Homo sapiens: one gene and its partners. The protein of the gene in region 3 purifies or fractionates together with the protein of the main gene of each other region. This does not show direct contact. Each region holds a gene or a part of one and is shown on either strand. Other genes may lie near its edges.

Evidence for each region. The genes of interacting proteins can lie anywhere in the genome.
Region 1: the proteins of ANAPC7 (region 3) and NAP1L4 fractionate together in Homo sapiens (co-fractionation; one large-scale study listed by BioGRID). This does not show direct contact.
Region 2: the proteins of ANAPC7 (region 3) and MDC1 purify together in Homo sapiens (affinity purification with western blotting; 2 studies listed by BioGRID, with this or other methods). This does not show direct contact.
Region 4: the proteins of ANAPC7 (region 3) and TRIM33 purify together in Homo sapiens (affinity purification with western blotting, with the first as the bait; one study listed by BioGRID). This does not show direct contact.

What each region holds. Positions count from the first base shown.
Region 1 is NC_000011.10:2,985,830-2,989,474, reverse strand, and holds part of NAP1L4 (nucleosome assembly protein 1-like 4), read left to right. Parts: intron 1-203; exon of another isoform or gene 204-346; intron 347-1,348; exon of another isoform or gene 1,349-1,398; intron 1,399-3,645. UniProt on the Homo sapiens protein: Acts as a histone chaperone in nucleosome assembly.
Region 2 is NC_000006.12:30,703,782-30,707,426, reverse strand, and holds part of MDC1 (mediator of DNA damage checkpoint protein 1), read left to right. Parts: coding exon 1-43; intron 44-1,328; coding exon 1,329-3,645. UniProt on the Homo sapiens protein: Histone reader protein required for checkpoint-mediated cell cycle arrest in response to DNA damage within both the S phase and G2/M phases of the cell cycle.
Region 3 is NC_000012.12:110,385,886-110,391,261, reverse strand, and holds part of ANAPC7 (anaphase-promoting complex subunit 7), read left to right. Parts: intron 1-2,638; coding exon 2,639-2,750; intron 2,751-3,369; coding exon 3,370-3,523; intron 3,524-4,792; coding exon 4,793-4,935; intron 4,936-5,376. UniProt on the Homo sapiens protein: Component of the anaphase promoting complex/cyclosome (APC/C), a cell cycle-regulated E3 ubiquitin ligase that controls progression through mitosis and the G1 phase of the cell cycle.
Region 4 is NC_000001.11:114,424,204-114,427,848, reverse strand, and holds part of TRIM33 (E3 ubiquitin-protein ligase TRIM33), read left to right. Parts: coding exon 1-101; intron 102-554; coding exon 555-672; intron 673-2,125; coding exon 2,126-2,400; intron 2,401-3,093; coding exon 3,094-3,258; coding exon of another isoform or gene 3,259-3,278; intron 3,279-3,645. UniProt on the Homo sapiens protein: Acts as an E3 ubiquitin-protein ligase. Promotes SMAD4 ubiquitination, nuclear exclusion and degradation via the ubiquitin proteasome pathway. According to PubMed:16751102, does not promote a decrease in the level of endogenous SMAD4.

The DNA.
Region 1 (3,645 bases), on a different chromosome or scaffold from region 3:
TGTTTTGGAAGAAAAATACTTTGTGGGCAAGAAGGTGATTTAAATTCCTGACGGCCTAAGAGGCGTCAGCTGTGTGAAATAGGCGAGTGCTGTTACTGCTTGAAACCATGATGGTTTATATTTGAATAAGACAGCAGAGATGAGCTTGTTGGGAGTTTGGCCTGAGATTGCTAGCTAAGGAATGCTTGCTTTTTTGCTTAAAGGGAAAAGTGTTTTAGGCTTCCAGAGTAGAAATCTGATATTACTTCGTTTGATTCTTCGACCACTATGGTGATAGGAAGTAGCTGATCTCTGCAGGAAACTGCTGTTACCTGGCCTCAGCTGAATTTTTGTGGGACCTCCTGAGGTAAGCAAATTTATGCCTCCCGAAACTATAGTTGTAAGGTTTGTCTTTGAGCATATAGTAATGGAAAACCCTTATCAGTAGGTAGATAGTAAATAATTTTGTATTTGGCTGCTAATGAAATTTTTAAGAAATAGTTTGTGGTGATATAAATTAGTTTTCATCTGGCAGTCATTGGTTTTCCACCCTGCCCTCTTAAGAGAGAACAGGGTTGCTTTACTTTGTTTGCCAGAGCTTTACATTTTGCATTTAGTAACAGAGGCATTGTGTTTTTATAGTATGAAAACAACGAAAGATCACTTTGTGATCTTTACTTTTTGATTTTGACCACTTCCTGTGTAACCTTAAGTTTCTTACAAGTATCCCCTGTTAACTGTTAAAAACGAAATGTATGTTCATTTCATGTCCTTGGGACTTTTAAAAATGCGCTGTGCATTATCTGGAAAAGCCTGTTCAAAAACAAGATGAGATAATTTCTGTTTAATTTGTGGTAGAAAGAATGACTGTGCACTTTTATGTGCAAAGGTTTTAAGTATAATAATTAAAATAGTACTTGTTTACTCAGTTACCGAAAAGTAGCTTTCAGTGATTTGCATCTGTTTACTTATTCATGAGCATCTTCTATGTACTGGGCACAGTTCTAGGTACTGGGGCCTCCCGCAGAATAAAACAGAAGTCTTTGTCCTTGTTTCTGCTATGGGAGACAGACGAACAAGTTCAATGGTGGCAGGTGCTTTTGAAAAACAGTGCAGAGGAGTAGGGACTTTGGTGGTTGCAATATGAAATAGGTAGAGAGGGAAGTGCCTTATTGACAAGATGACAAGATCTTTTAATATGTACTGGATTAAGAAGTTAGCCTCATTGAGTCGTATGCTAATGAACTGCCCAGAAAAGAAGGGTGGAGGAGATGGGAGTGCAGCAGTAAAGACTGCTGCGCCCCAAGTAAAATGTAGTGTTTTGGTTAAGGAAAGGAAATCATTTTTTGCTTTCTTCTTGAAACCCCAGGGCTTGGCACCGCAGAAGTCTCTGAAGAGACAGTCTGCTGCTGTTTGGAGGCAGGTATTTCAGTAGATCTTGTAACCAAACATGAATGACTAAGGCAGTGTTTCTCCTCTGTGTCTTCAGAAACTGCTTGAGATGTGTGCATGCAGTCCCGGGCACCATGCGTGCTGGGTACTGGTAACACAGAGACAAGTTGTCATTTGGTAGCAGTGAGTTAAGCAAAGATTTCTTGGCAACCAGTCTCATCCCGAGTCTGTTGCTGGGCCTTGGGACTTCTGTATTGAGCAAGTAGACAGGGTCCCTGCCCTCGTGGAACTTGTTCTTTAGTGGGCAAACATGTATTATTCATTGCTTTTTTTTTTTTTTTTTTTTTGAGGTGGAGTCTCGCTCTGATGCCCAGGCTGGAGTGCAGTGGCGCGATCTCGGCTCACTGCAGCCTCTGCCTCCCAGGTTCAAGCAATTCTCCTGTCTCAGCCTCCCAAGTAGCTGGGATTACAGGTGCTCACCACCACGCCTGGGTAATTTTTGTATCTTTTTAGTAGAGACGGGTTTCACCATATTGGTCAGGCTGGTCTCGAACTCCTGACCTCAGGTGGTCTGCCCACCTGGGCCTCTCAAAGTGCTGGGATTACAGGCGTGAGCCACCGTGCCCAGCCTATTCATTGCTTTTAAACATTATCATGGGCCTGGCATGGTGGCTCACGCCTGTAATCACAGCACTTTGGGGGAAGCTGAGGTGGGCAGATCACCTGAGGGTCAGGAGTTTGAGACCCTCTCCCGCCTTGGGTGACAGAGCGAGACTCCACCTCAAAAAACAACAACAACAACAAAAAACCCAGAACATTATCATGGAAAGTTTAACAACATGATTAACTTCTGATCCTGGAGAGTGGTAATGATAGACTGGATCAGGAGTCTACTGGCCTGGGCAATAGAAATGAAATCTGGACTGTCTCAGGGCTTCGTATAATCACCAGCTTTTGTGGGTGGGGATGTTGGGGTGTCCTACAGGGGTATCTTGATTCCTTCTGAGAACAGATCATTTCTTTGTCCTTTCTGATGTCCTAATCTAAAACATCCAGTACTCCTGGAGGATTTGAACTTGTGCCCAATGGCTGGTCAGACTCTCTTGGATTGAGAATGTTGGATTGCCATTCCTCAGACTGAATGTGGGCCAAGCAATTGTGCTTTAGAAATTTATCTTAGAGTGCGGTGGCTCATACCTGTAATCCCAGCACTTTGGGAGGTTGAGGCAGGTGGATCACCTGAGGTTGGGAGTTCGAGACCAAGTCTGGCCAACATGGTGAAACCCTGTCTCTACTAAAAATACAAAAAAAAAAAAAAATTAGCTGGGCATGGTGGTGGGCACCTGTAACTCCAGCTACTTGGGAGGCTGAGGCAGGAGAAACTGGGAGGTGGAGGTTGCAGTGAGCCGAGATCGCGCCACTGCACGCCAGCCTGGGCAACAAGTGCGAAACTCTATCTCAAAAAAAAAAAAAAAAATTTACTACCATCCCTAATTTTGTAGGATATATAGGATTTGTAAGGAAATTATAAGGAGTCTTGTGAAAACATTAATTACATTTGAATTAATTTTAATCCTTCAGTTATCTCCCATAAAGACATTGAGGACCTTTGAGTTTATTAAGACAGAGTAAATATATAAAAGTTTTGGGGAGTACGACTACACTCTCTAGCTTTGTCTCTCAAACGTGGCCCAATTTTTTTTTCCTTTCTTTTTCTTTTTTTTTTTTTTGAGACAGGGTCTGGCTCTGTCGCCCAGACTGGAGTCTAGTGGGGCAATCTTGGCTCACTACAACCTCCGCCCCCCAGGTTCAAGCAGTTCTCCTGCCTCAGCCTCCTGAGTAGCTGGGACCTCAGGCGTGTGCCACCATGCCCAGCTGATTTTTGTATTTTTAATGGAGATGGAATTTCACCACGTTGGCCAGGCTGACCTCGAACTCCCGACCTCATGTGATCCGCCCGCCTTGGTCTCCCAAAGTGCTGGGATTACAGGCGTGAGCCACCGTGCCTGGCCATGGCCCAATTTTATAGTTACTCTAGCTATGGAGTAGATGTTTTCAGTTCAAAATTAGGAATTTAAGGTTATATTTTGTTACAAAAATCTTTAAAAATTTCATAAGAAAACAGTTGTTTGGGGTACAAAGAAATTAATCCATAAATAGGATTGTTACAGTGACTAATATAAATAAAAGAACATTTGTGTAATCATGGGAATTATTTTATTTTATTTTTCCTCGACCCAATTAACTGGGTGAAAATTTGCTTGCCAGTTCAGA
Region 2 (3,645 bases), on a different chromosome or scaffold from region 3:
TGAGAAGGCTTCCAGGATCAGAGCTGCTGAGAAGGTTTCCAGGGTGAGAGCTACTTTTTCTACCTCCTATTCCACAAGTCATCTCTATATCTTCTCCAATGCTCTTTCACCTAGCCTCACTTTAATCTATTCCTTTCTCATTATTCAGTTTTCTTCCATTTTTGTCACGCCTTGATTGGCTTCTATTCCTTTATCCTCGGCACCCGTTGTTTTCCATATCTGTTTCCTAAGTTGTATCTCCTACCTGACTCAAAAGAAAGACCCTTCGTGTTTCTTCTTTCTTTGCCCCAGCCATCCTTTTCCTTACCATCATCCACGTGTGGAGAACACTATAGTAGCATTATGGAGACAGGTCTGTGGGAAAAAGGTAGCTTCCCAGGTAGATCCCAGTCTAATGGAGGAGAGATCATAGACAGAAAGGAAAATCCAGTGAGCATATTTTTTGTTTTTGTTCTTTTTTGAGACAGAGTCTGTCTCTGTCACCCAGGCTGGAGTGTGCAGTGGCGTGATCTCAGCTTACTGTAACCTCCGTCTCTTGGGTTCAAACAATTTTCCTGCCGCAGCCTCCCAAGTAGCTGGGACTACAGGCGCATGTCACCCGGCTAATTTTTGTGTATTTTTTTGTTTTTTTTGAGACAGTCTCACTCTGTCACCCAGGCTGGAGTGCAGTGGCGCGATCTTGGCTCACTGCAACCTCTGCCTCCCGGGTTCAAGCGACTCTCCTCCCTCAGCCTCCCAGGTAGCTGGGACTACTAGGCGCCTGCCAACACACCTAGCTAATTTTTTTTTTTTTTTTTTTTTTTTTTAGACAGAGTCTTGCTCTGTCCCCCAGGCTGGAGTGCAGTGGCACCATCTCGGCTCACTGCAAGCTCCGCCTCCCGAGTTCACGCCATTCTCCTGCCTCAGCCTTCCAAGTAGCTGGGACTACAGGCGCCCGCCACCACGCCCGGCTAATTTTTTGTATTTTTTAGTAGAGACGGGGTTTCACCGTGTTAGCCAGGATGGTCTCGGTTTCCTGACCTTGTGATCCACCCGCCTCGGCCTCCCAAAGTGCTGGGATTACAGGCATCAGCCACCATGCCTGGCCTTTTTTTTTGTATTTTTAGTAGAGACGGGGTTTCACTATGTTGGCCAGGCTGGTCTTGAACTCCTGACCTCGTGATCCGCCCGCCTCGGCCTCCCAAAGTGCTGGGATTATAGCCGTGAGCCACCACGCCCGGTGGAAATCTGGTAAGCCTATCTAACCATAAACAAGTATCAAGAACAGTATCCAAGTTCTATCTCTTTTCTCCACCTCCTCCCCCTCACTTGCTTCTGTTTCTCCCTAGGGCGATCAGGAATCTCCAGATGCTTGTCTGCCTCCTACAGTACCTGAAGCCCCAGCCCCACCCCAAAAGCCCCTTAACTCTCAGAGCCAGAAACATCTTGCACCTCCGCCCCTTCTTTCTCCCCTTTTACCTTCTATCAAGCCAACCGTTCGTAAGACCAGGCAAGATGGGAGTCAGGAAGCTCCAGAGGCTCCCTTGTCCTCAGAGCTGGAGCCTTTCCACCCAAAGCCTAAAATTAGAACTCGGAAGTCCTCCAGAATGACACCCTTTCCAGCTACCTCTGCTGCCCCTGAGCCCCACCCTTCCACCTCCACAGCCCAGCCAGTCACTCCCAAGCCCACATCTCAGGCCACTAGGAGCAGGACAAATAGGTCCTCTGTCAAGACCCCTGAACCAGTTGTCCCCACAGCCCCTGAGCTCCAGCCTTCCACCTCCACAGACCAGCCTGTCACCTCTGAGCCCACATCTCAGGTTACTAGGGGAAGAAAAAGTAGATCCTCTGTCAAGACCCCTGAAACAGTTGTGCCCACAGCCCTTGAGCTCCAGCCTTCCACCTCCACCGACCGACCTGTCACCTCTGAACCCACCTCTCAGGCTACTAGGGGAAGAAAAAATAGATCCTCTGTCAAGACCCCTGAACCAGTTGTCCCCACAGCCCCTGAGCTCCAGCCTTCCACCTCCACAGACCAGCCTGTCACTTCTGAGCCCACATATCAGGCTACTAGGGGAAGAAAAAATAGATCCTCTGTCAAGACCCCTGAACCAGTTGTGCCCACAGCCCCTGAGCTCCGGCCTTCCACCTCCACAGACCGACCTGTCACCCCCAAGCCCACATCTCGGACCACTAGGAGCAGGACAAATATGTCCTCTGTCAAGACCCCTGAAACAGTTGTCCCCACAGCCCCTGAGCTCCAGATTTCCACCTCCACAGACCAACCTGTCACCCCTAAGCCCACATCTCGGACCACTAGGAGCAGGACAAATATGTCCTCTGTGAAGAACCCTGAATCAACTGTCCCTATAGCCCCTGAGCTCCCACCTTCCACCTCCACAGAGCAGCCTGTCACCCCTGAGCCCACATCTCGGGCTACTAGGGGAAGAAAAAATAGATCCTCTGGCAAGACCCCTGAAACACTTGTCCCCACAGCCCCTAAGCTCGAGCCTTCCACTTCCACAGACCAACCTGTCACTCCTGAGCCCACATCTCAGGCCACCAGGGGCAGGACAAATAGGTCCTCTGTGAAGACCCCTGAAACAGTTGTCCCCACAGCCCCTGAGCTCCAGCCTTCCACCTCCACAGACCAGCCTGTTACCCCTGAGCCTACGTCTCAGGCTACTAGGGGAAGAACAGATAGATCCTCTGTCAAGACTCCTGAAACAGTTGTCCCCACAGCCCCTGAGCTACAGGCTTCCGCCTCCACAGACCAGCCTGTCACCTCTGAGCCCACATCTCGGACCACTAGGGGAAGAAAAAATCGGTCCTCTGTCAAGACCCCTGAAACAGTTGTGCCCGCAGCCCCTGAGCTCCAGCCTTCCACCTCCACAGACCAACCTGTCACCCCTGAGCCCACATCTCGGGCCACTAGGGGCAGGACAAATAGGTCCTCTGTCAAGACCCCTGAATCAATTGTCCCTATAGCCCCTGAGCTTCAGCCTTCCACCTCCAGAAACCAGCTTGTCACCCCTGAGCCCACATCTCGGGCCACTAGGTGCAGGACAAATAGGTCCTCTGTCAAGACCCCTGAGCCAGTTGTCCCCACAGCCCCTGAGCCCCATCCTACCACCTCCACAGACCAGCCTGTCACCCCCAAGCTCACATCTAGGGCCACTAGGAGAAAGACAAATAGGTCCTCTGTCAAGACTCCCAAACCAGTTGAACCAGCAGCCTCTGATCTTGAGCCTTTTACCCCCACAGACCAGTCCGTCACCCCTGAGGCCATAGCTCAGGGTGGTCAGAGCAAAACACTGAGGTCTTCCACAGTAAGAGCTATGCCGGTTCCTACCACCCCTGAATTCCAATCTCCTGTCACCACAGACCAGCCTATTTCCCCTGAGCCTATTACTCAACCCAGTTGCATCAAGAGGCAGAGAGCCGCTGGGAACCCTGGCTCCCTCGCAGCTCCCATTGACCATAAGCCTTGCTCTGCACCCTTGGAACCTAAATCCCAGGCCTCAAGGAACCAAAGATGGGGAGCAGTGAGAGCAGCTGAATCCCTTACAGCCATTCCTGAGCCTGCCTCTCCCCAGCTTCTTGAGACACCAATTCATGCCTCCCAGATCCAAAAGGTGGAACCAGCAGGTAGATCTAGGTTCACCC
Region 3 (5,376 bases):
GAATGTGGCTTTATGATGTTTTTAAGTGAGTATCTATTTTTAAAATAGTTGACTTTTTTTGTTTGTTTGTTTGAGATGGAGTCTCTCTCTGTTGCCCAGGCTGGAGTGCAATGGCATGATCTCAGCTCACTGCAACCTCCACCTCCTGGGTTCAAGCGATTCTCCTGTCTCAGCCTCCTGAGTAGCTGGTACTACAGGCGCGTACCGCTGCACCTGCCTAATTTTTTGTATTCTAGTAGAGACGGGGTTTCACCATGTTGGCCAGGCTGGTCTCGATCTCCTGACCTCGTGATCCACCCACCTCGGCCTCCCAAAGTGCTAGGATTAGAGGTGTGAACCACTGCGCCCGGCCAATAATTGACTTTTTCATTAGGTATTACTCAAAACTCATTCTTTTAAAGTGACAGTCAAGTAGCTTAAAGGAAATTTTGATATTTGTTGAGAAAGATAGTCCATCAGTCATAGTTTGTTAATATAACCAGCAGTCAAGAAAGGATCTTAAATTTAACTTTTTATTCTTTACAAGTATTGACATCAATCCTGGAGTTTTCCTTTTAAGTATTTTTCTTTGCATTTTCAAAATAGTAGCCTAATATGGAAAATCTGAGGCCAAGTAAAAAATAGTTTTATTTTTAGTATTTCATTATTCCATTGTTTGAATTAGTGTGAATCAATGCTATATTAGATTGTTTTATATAATGTAGGTCTATAATTGGAACAGATGTTCTTTATCTTTAGAGCCACTCTTTCTATAAATATCTGGCATACCAAGCCACAGTTAAATCGAAGAGATTGGGGGTTGACCTTTTTTCTTTTGTGCCCTCACATTGACTGCTTCCTTAGGTTAATGATCTAGCAAATACTGTTGTGTTTAAAATCTACTAATTTTGCCAGACACGGTGGCTCACGCCTGTAATCCCAGCACTTTGGGAGGCCGAGGTGGTTGGATCACCTGAGGTCAGGAGTTCAAGACCAGCCTGGCCAACATGGTGAAACACCATCTCTACTTAAAATACAAAAAAAAAATTAGCTGGGCGTGGTGGCGGGTGCCTGTAATCCCAGCTACTCAGGAGGCTGAGGCAGGAGAATCACTTGAACCCAGGAGGCAGAGGTTGCAGTGAGCTGAGATCGTGCCATCGCACTCTAGCCTGGGTGACAAGCGTGAAACTCCGTCTCAAAAAAAAAAATCTAATTTTAAATTGGAATATTGTGTTTATCTGTGTACTATTAGGAAGGTCTTTTATCACTTGCCTATAACTTCTACATTCTTAGGAACTTTTAGATTTTCTGGCTTTTTTTTTGTTTTTGTGGGTTTTTTTTGTTGTTTTTTGAGACGGAGTCTCGCTCTGTCTCCCAGTCTGGAGTGCAGTGGCACGATCTCGGCTCACTGCAAGCTCTGCCTTCCGGGTTCACGTCATTCTCCTTCCTCAGCCTCCTGAGTAGCTGGGACTACAGGCGCCCGCCACCACGCCCAGCTAATTTTTTGTATTTTTTAGTAGAGACGGGGTTTCACTGTGTTAGCCGGGATGGTCTCAATCTCCTGACCTCGTAATCCACCCACCTCGGCCTCCCAAAGTGCTGGGATTACAGGCATGAGCCACTGCGCCCGGCCAGAACTTTTAGATTTTCTCATTTCCCAGTTGCATGTTAGGTAGGATTATTTTAATTTAGCTTTACAAAGTTACATATTTAAATTACGCTAAAATGCAGCTGTCTGCACTCACTGGATTTAAATAGTGTAGCTGATTTTTGTAGCATTACTTTAGTGAGTTAGTACCTACGGGCCAAAGCCTTAAGTGTTAGAAAGGCTAGAGTCTAGCCACAAGTCGAATTGTCAAAGAAAAGCCAAGTATTATACTTCTTTATCTGTCTTTCTGTATCATTTCCTTATTAGGAAAAACTGAGCTGATCCTTCTTAACTAGCTATGTCAAGAGTTTCTCACTTTCTTATGTGAGATAGTTCATCTTCTGTTTTAAGATCAAGAAAGAATCAAGTTAACTAGCGTTCTCTACCATTTCTTAAATGAATGTTATTCCAGTTTCCAGAGGGCAGCGTCTTTTGTTCAGATATTACTGGGCCTTGTGGGAAGGTAATGTGACTTTCCTCTTAGGGAAGGCAGGAGCTAGGGAAAGGAAGGGTAGTAATTTCTTTTCTTTTCTTTTTTTTTTTTTTTTTTTTTAAGATGGAGTCTCACTCTGTAGCCCAGGCTGGAGTGCAGTGGCGTGATGTCGGTTCACTGCAAGCTCCGCCTCCCGGTTTCACACCATTCTCCTGCCTCAGCCTCCCGAGTAGCTGGGACTACAGGCTCCCGCCACCACGCCCAGCTAATTTTTTTGTATTTTTTAGTAGAGACGGGGTTTCACTGTGTTAGCCGGGATGGTCTCAATCTCCTGACCTCGTGATCCACCCACCTCGGCCTCCCAAAGTGCTGGGATTACAGGCGTGAGCCACTGCACCTGGCCAATTTCTTCTTTCTTTTGAAGAATGGGGTCAGTCTGCCTTTATTTGCACAGGGTTGTGGGTAGATTTTCCAGTAAAAAGTAAATAACTGGTAATGAAAATTAGGACTTTTTCATGGTGAGAGATTTTCTTTGCAATATACGCTTATTTTGCTATCTGTTATTTGTGTTTGTACAGATAAACATGATGCTGGCAAACCTGTACAAGAAGGCTGGTCAGGAGCGCCCTTCAGTCACCAGCTATAAGGAGGTGCTGAGGCAGTGCCCATTAGCCCTTGATGCCATTCTAGGTAGAGATATTTCCTGCCTGTTTTCATGGCATGTTTACTGTCAAAGATAGTAGTTCTCAATCTTGCCTGTACATTAGAATAACTTTATTTTTTTTAAAAGTTCCCCTGAAGAGAGTGATTTAGTAGGATTCCTGTTGTCACATATTCAATCAAGAAATACTTAATTATGGTTTTTGGCCGGGCATGGTGGCTTACACCTGTAATTCTAGCACCTTGGGAGGCTGAGGTGGGTGGATTGCCTGAGCTCAGCAGGTCGAGACCAGCCTGGGCAACATGGCACAACCCCGTCTCTACTAAAAATACAAAAATTAGCCAGGCATGGTGGCGCGTGCCTGTAGTCCCAGCTTCTCGGAAGGCTGGGGCATGAGTATCGCTTGAACCCAGGAGGCAGAGGTTGCAGTGAGCTGAGATTGTGCCACTGCATTCCAGCCCAGGGGGACAGAACAAGACACTGTCTCAAAAAGAAAAGAAATACTAAATTATGGTTTTTCTCTCATGCATCGCTCAGAATAGGGAAGCAGTTGCCTTTTAGCCAAGGGAAGATGTAGCCCGTTGCTCCTTGCATGTGGAAGAGAGATATCGTGCCTTACTTTCTTTCTTCTGCTTTCTGTTGGTTTAGGCTTGTTGTCCCTTTCTGTAAAAGGGGCAGAGGTGGCATCCATGACAATGAATGTGATCCAAACCGTGCCTAACTTGGACTGGCTCTCTGTGTGGATCAAAGCGTATGCTTTTGTGCACACTGGTGACAACTCAAGAGCAATCAGTACCATCTGGTGAGAGCCACAAAGTTAATTCAGTGTTCTTGAGGCCCTTTGCTTGTCTGGAAGTCTGATGTATCTGAAGTAGCAAAAAGAAAAATGAGATGCTTTGCTGTTGGTGCTGCAGCCAGTCTCTGGGATGTGTTAGTCTTTTATACTGAATGGTCCCAAATGTAATCATGTAATCATCTCTGTTGGAGACCTGTAAAAATAGAAATCTGACTGAGTTTAGCTCTGTGCCTGCACAGGTAGTAACCCTTGCAAAGCAAAGCAGGCTACCTTGGTGTGTCATTTTTTTTTTTTTTTTTGAGACAAGGTCGGTCTCTCTCTCTCTCTCTCTCTCTCTCTCTCTCTCTCTCTCTCTCTCTCTGTCTCTCTCTCTCTCTGTCTCTCTCTCTCTGTCTCTCTCTCTCTCTGCCTCTCTCTCTCTCTCTGTCTCTCTGTCTCTCTCTCTCTCTCTCTCTCTGTCTCTCTCTCTCTCTCTCTCTCTCTCTCTCTGTCTCTCTGTCTCTCTGTCTCTCTCTCTCTCTCTCTCTCTCCCAGGCTAGAGTGCAGTGGCGCAGTCACAGCTCAGTGTAGCCTTGACCTGTCAATCTCCCGGGCTCAAACCATCCTCCTGCTCAGCCTCCTGAGTATCTGGGACTACAGGCGCATGCCACCACACCCAGCTAATTTTTGTATGTTTTTGTAGAGATGGGATTTCACCATGTTGCCCAAGCTGGTCTTGAATTCCTGGGCTCAAGTGATTCTCCCACGTGGGCCTCCCAAAGTGCTGGGATTATAGACGTGAGCCACCATGCCTGGCCTTGGTGTATCATTCTTCAGCCTGGAAGAAAATCATTTTGCACTCACCAGAAGCTTGGTTTATTGCAGTGTCTAACCTAGCTTGCCTGCTTAGGACTAGGGATTTTCTTTATATTCAGATAAAGTTCAAGGACAAGAAGAGACTTGGGCTTGTGTTATGCAAAGTCGTTTACTTGAGTAATAAATAGGTGTCACTTGTGAATGACATTACCTTTAACACCATGTAGCGTATGTTGTGTTCTGAAGAACTGCAACCACAGAGTTATTTGTTGGTACTGAGAGACTTCTGCTTTATTCTTTGTTTTTGCTATCCTGTCCTATATAACTTTTTTTAAAGTCATAAGCTTAAAGTTTTTTATTACGAAGAATTTTATATTTATGCAAAAGAAAATAGTATCTGTATGACCAATCATCCAGATTCAGCAACTAAGAGGATTTATAATAGATTTAAAGGTTCAATGTTTAATAAATATCTTAAAGTTCACTAGAGAAAAAATCCTTATTGCGAGATAACGTGGACCTATTGGGAAGCTTGGCAGATCTGTACTTCAGAGCTGGAGACAATAAAAACTCTGTCCTCAAGTTTGAACAGGCACAGATGTTGGATCCTTATCTGATAAAAGGTAAGTAATTCTTGGGGCAGGAAGACAGTGGCTGTTGTTGGGGGGGATCAGAGATAATAGGGAGAATATGCAGCATTAATACTCGATACCAAGTTTCATAGAAATGGTGTATAAAACTTATACTAGTCTTTTACTTTTTTTAGGTCATGACACATGTCTCTAACGCTTAGGTAATACCATTTGAGCAGCTGTTTTTGCTTGAATTCAAGTGTCTTCTCCCCACAGATCATTATTTGGCTTTTTTTCTTTTGAGGGGGTCATAGCTCCTCCTTATGACTTATAAATTTATGGTGTGCCTGACTGAGAATTTGGATGGCATCCCTAAAACCATAATATCCTTTTAGGGAATTTTGTTTTGCCATGTCCTTAGTATAATTAAAAAGGAATAAGAAAGGGATAAGGTGATTAAAGGCAGTAATTAGGCGTGAACAACAGAAAAAT
Region 4 (3,645 bases), on a different chromosome or scaffold from region 3:
ACATCACAGGCCTTTCCCGGCAGGTGAAGCATGTTATGAACTTCACAAATTGGGCAATTGCAAGTGGCAGCAGCACAGCACTACTATACAGCAAGCGACTGGTGAGACACATACTGTTTTTATTTTTCTTTAATGGACTTTATTAAGATATATATTCAGTGAATTGCACCTGTTTAAAGTATACATTTTAATTTTGGCAAATGTAACCACCACCACATCAAGATACAGAAAACTTCCACCACCCCCCAAAGTTTCCTCATTCCACTAGGCAGCCACTAATCTGATTTCTGTCATTTTTTAGAATTTCATATAAGTGGAATTATATAGTATGTACTCTTTTGAAGATACCTAGTATCTTAATGCACTTTATTACCCAAAATGGCAGAAATTCAAGTATGTATATTTGATTTGATTGCTAATTTAAATGTTGATGCTGCCTAATCTGAGGCTGACACTGTGGGAATATATGTGCTTTTTTTTCTTAATGTCTTTATCTTATGATTTCCCAATTGATATTTAATTTTGAGACTAATGTGGATTTTTTTCCCTTTAAGATTACTTTCCAGTTGCGTCATATTTTGAAAGCACGGTGTGATCCTGTCCCTGCTGCTAATGGAGCAATACGTTTCCATTGTGATCCCACCTTCTGGGCAAAGAATGTAGTCAATTTAGGTGAGAAATAATGAGTTTTATGAATATAACTTGGAACACTGAATTAGAAGGAGAAAATACTTAAAGCAAATTTAGATAAAATTTTTAACTTTATAAAACTAATGTTTTACATTTTATGTAAAAATATGTTGTTATTCATTGGAAACTCACTTTAGCTGTGGTTTTGTGTGGCTGTTATTACATCTTAAGAAAGTTGAGCGTCTACTCTGTATATTGTTTTTTAATGTGTGCTGTTTCTAGTCCCCCGACCCTCCATCTTTTAAATTTATATTGACTGTTTCATATAGAAATCTTAGCAAATGATTCATTGTCTGGAATAATTTCATAGATTTTTAGTTGTTTAATTAAGCCAAATTGTGCATTAGCAACAGACTTTTAGGATGCTAATGTGTCCAGTAGTTAGGTCCTGAGGAATGTTTGAAAGATAAGAGTAGCTCTTTTCACATGGAAGAGAAATGGATTTTCCTTTTGTTACAGCGTAGTATGGACCTAAAGACCATAGATGAAAGTTACAGAGAGCTCAGTTAAAACACATGCACACAAACTTCCTAGCAATTAGAGAGCTATTTACAGATTGAGTAAACTCACTTTCAGAACAGTTAAGTCCTAAACAGTGGGAATTGTAAAAGCAGAGGCTGGTTGCCCTTTTTTTTTAAAAAAAAAAAAAAAGTAATCTTTGCATATAATAAAAAAAAATTATATTCAAATTTAGCTATAGCCTTAGTTCTGACATCAGCCAGCTGTTTTTGTGTGACGTAGTAGCTAAGAATGGTTTTTACATTTTCAACTGGTTGTAAAAGCAAACAAAAACCAAGGACTGTGAGACAGATCTTATGTGGCCTGCCAAGCATGAAATATTTACTCTATAGCCCATTACAGGGAAAGCCTGTCAACCTGTGCCTTAAATCACATCTTCCTAAAATTTGGCTTCTATCCCTAGAAGGCAATGGCTCCATAAAAAGCAAGGAAAACCATCACGTCTAAGGATATAAGTTGTTTAAAGCATTCAGTATTTCCACAGAAGACGATTTTGTGACATTGTAATGCTCTGCCTTGCATATTTTGGCAATTCAAAGGCAGATGGAATCAGTATTGGCAATCTTGAGTATCCTTGAGTAAGTCTTGTCATGGGAGAATTGATTTAGATTGATTAGATAGGCCTCTTCTAATAGATAATCTCTTTTACTGTCTTAATTTTCTGTATGTCTAAGTAAAAAAGAATAAGGACAGAGAGTATATTTTTCTGAATAACCAAACGTCATTTATTCAGCTTTGGAATGTATTAAGTTTCTGATCATCATCATCATCTTTAAACTGACTCCATTCCCTGCTGTACTGTTGGAGCTTTGAGGTGCTGATAGTTGTCAGAGGAAAGAGGAAAACATGGTGATTACTCAACAAAGTAGATGATTTAGTTGATTATATGCAAATTCTCATTTTTTAAATTTTTCAGGTAATCTAGTAATAGAGAGTAAACCAGCTCCTGGTTATACTCCTAATGTTGTAGTTGGGCAAGTTCCTCCAGGGACAAACCACATTAGTAAAACCCCTGGACAGATTAACTTAGCACAGCTTCGACTCCAGCACATGCAACAACAAGTATATGCACAGAAACATCAGCAGTTGCAACAGATGAGGATGCAGCAACCACCAGCACCTGTACCAACTACAACAACAACAACACAACAGCATCCTAGACAAGCAGCCCCTCAGATGTTACAACAACAGGTAAGTATCGTGTTACTACATTATTGATAGAAATTATGAAGCCCTCAACACTACACTTTTTCCTATATAATTAAGTTACACATTTCAAAGTTACTAGCAAGACTGAGCAGAGTTCAAAAGTCAGAGTTTAAATATTTGCTATGGTTATGATGGTGATGTAAGGGAGCTGTGAAGAAAGGCAGTAAGTAAATTGTCTTGGGAAACAAAATTAATTCACTAATACTCTGAAAGGATGTAAGTTCTCATCCTTTCACATCAAATCTTTTTTGTTTTCCACGTATAATTTTGTGGACCAAAGGACCAGACTGTTTCTGCCTAGGATCTGATATGTTCCTTAGGCATTTGTTCAGATCTTTCCTATACCTGTGTGTCTTTTGCTCTCTCCACTGCCATCCCAATCAAAACTATTACTCCAGGATGGGATACGTTAATGTTGATACGCTTTAAACACACATATAGAGAAAAAGAGGGGGAACAGGTAAGAGAGAGAGAGAGAGACAAGGGAAATTAGGGAGTGATATACAAACTAGTCATTACCAGTCCTCTGGGGATTGGGGCTAGCGATAAGAATTATTTATACTTTTTACTTTATACCCTTTTATCTTGACTGAATTATTTTTATGATTACATTTTATAATTGAGATAAATTTATTTTAAAATTATTACATAAATTGCAATTTCTACTTTTTGTAGCCTCCTCGATTGATCAGTGTGCAAACAATGCAAAGAGGCAACATGAACTGTGGAGCTTTTCAAGCCCATCAGATGAGACTGGCTCAGAATGCTGCCAGAATACCAGGGATACCCAGGCACAGCGGCCCTCAATATTCCATGATGCAGCCACACCTCCAAAGACAAGTATGCCTAGAGTTACATTTGTAAGAATCCTACAATTTTAAAATTAAAAGACGTCATTTTCTTAATCACTTTTTGGGAGCAGGTCATTGATGTGTTTGAGAATTTGATTAATGCTGTATATCCTCTTGTCCCAGAAAAATAAACATACACATGAGATTTTGTATTTAATTTTAAGAGCTTTTAAAAAATGCTTTAAGTGCATCATATACTGTGGGTTAAGAAACCCTGATGTAGTTAACCCATTCAATTTGCAGAAGTGAAAAAAATCTAATGAGCTGGTGATTTTACCCACAATCACAAAAAGCAATGATAAAATAGCAAGAACATTAGTTTCCTGAAAATGCTGCTCTGCTCTTTTAATGTGGCTTTTTGATCCTAATATATAAA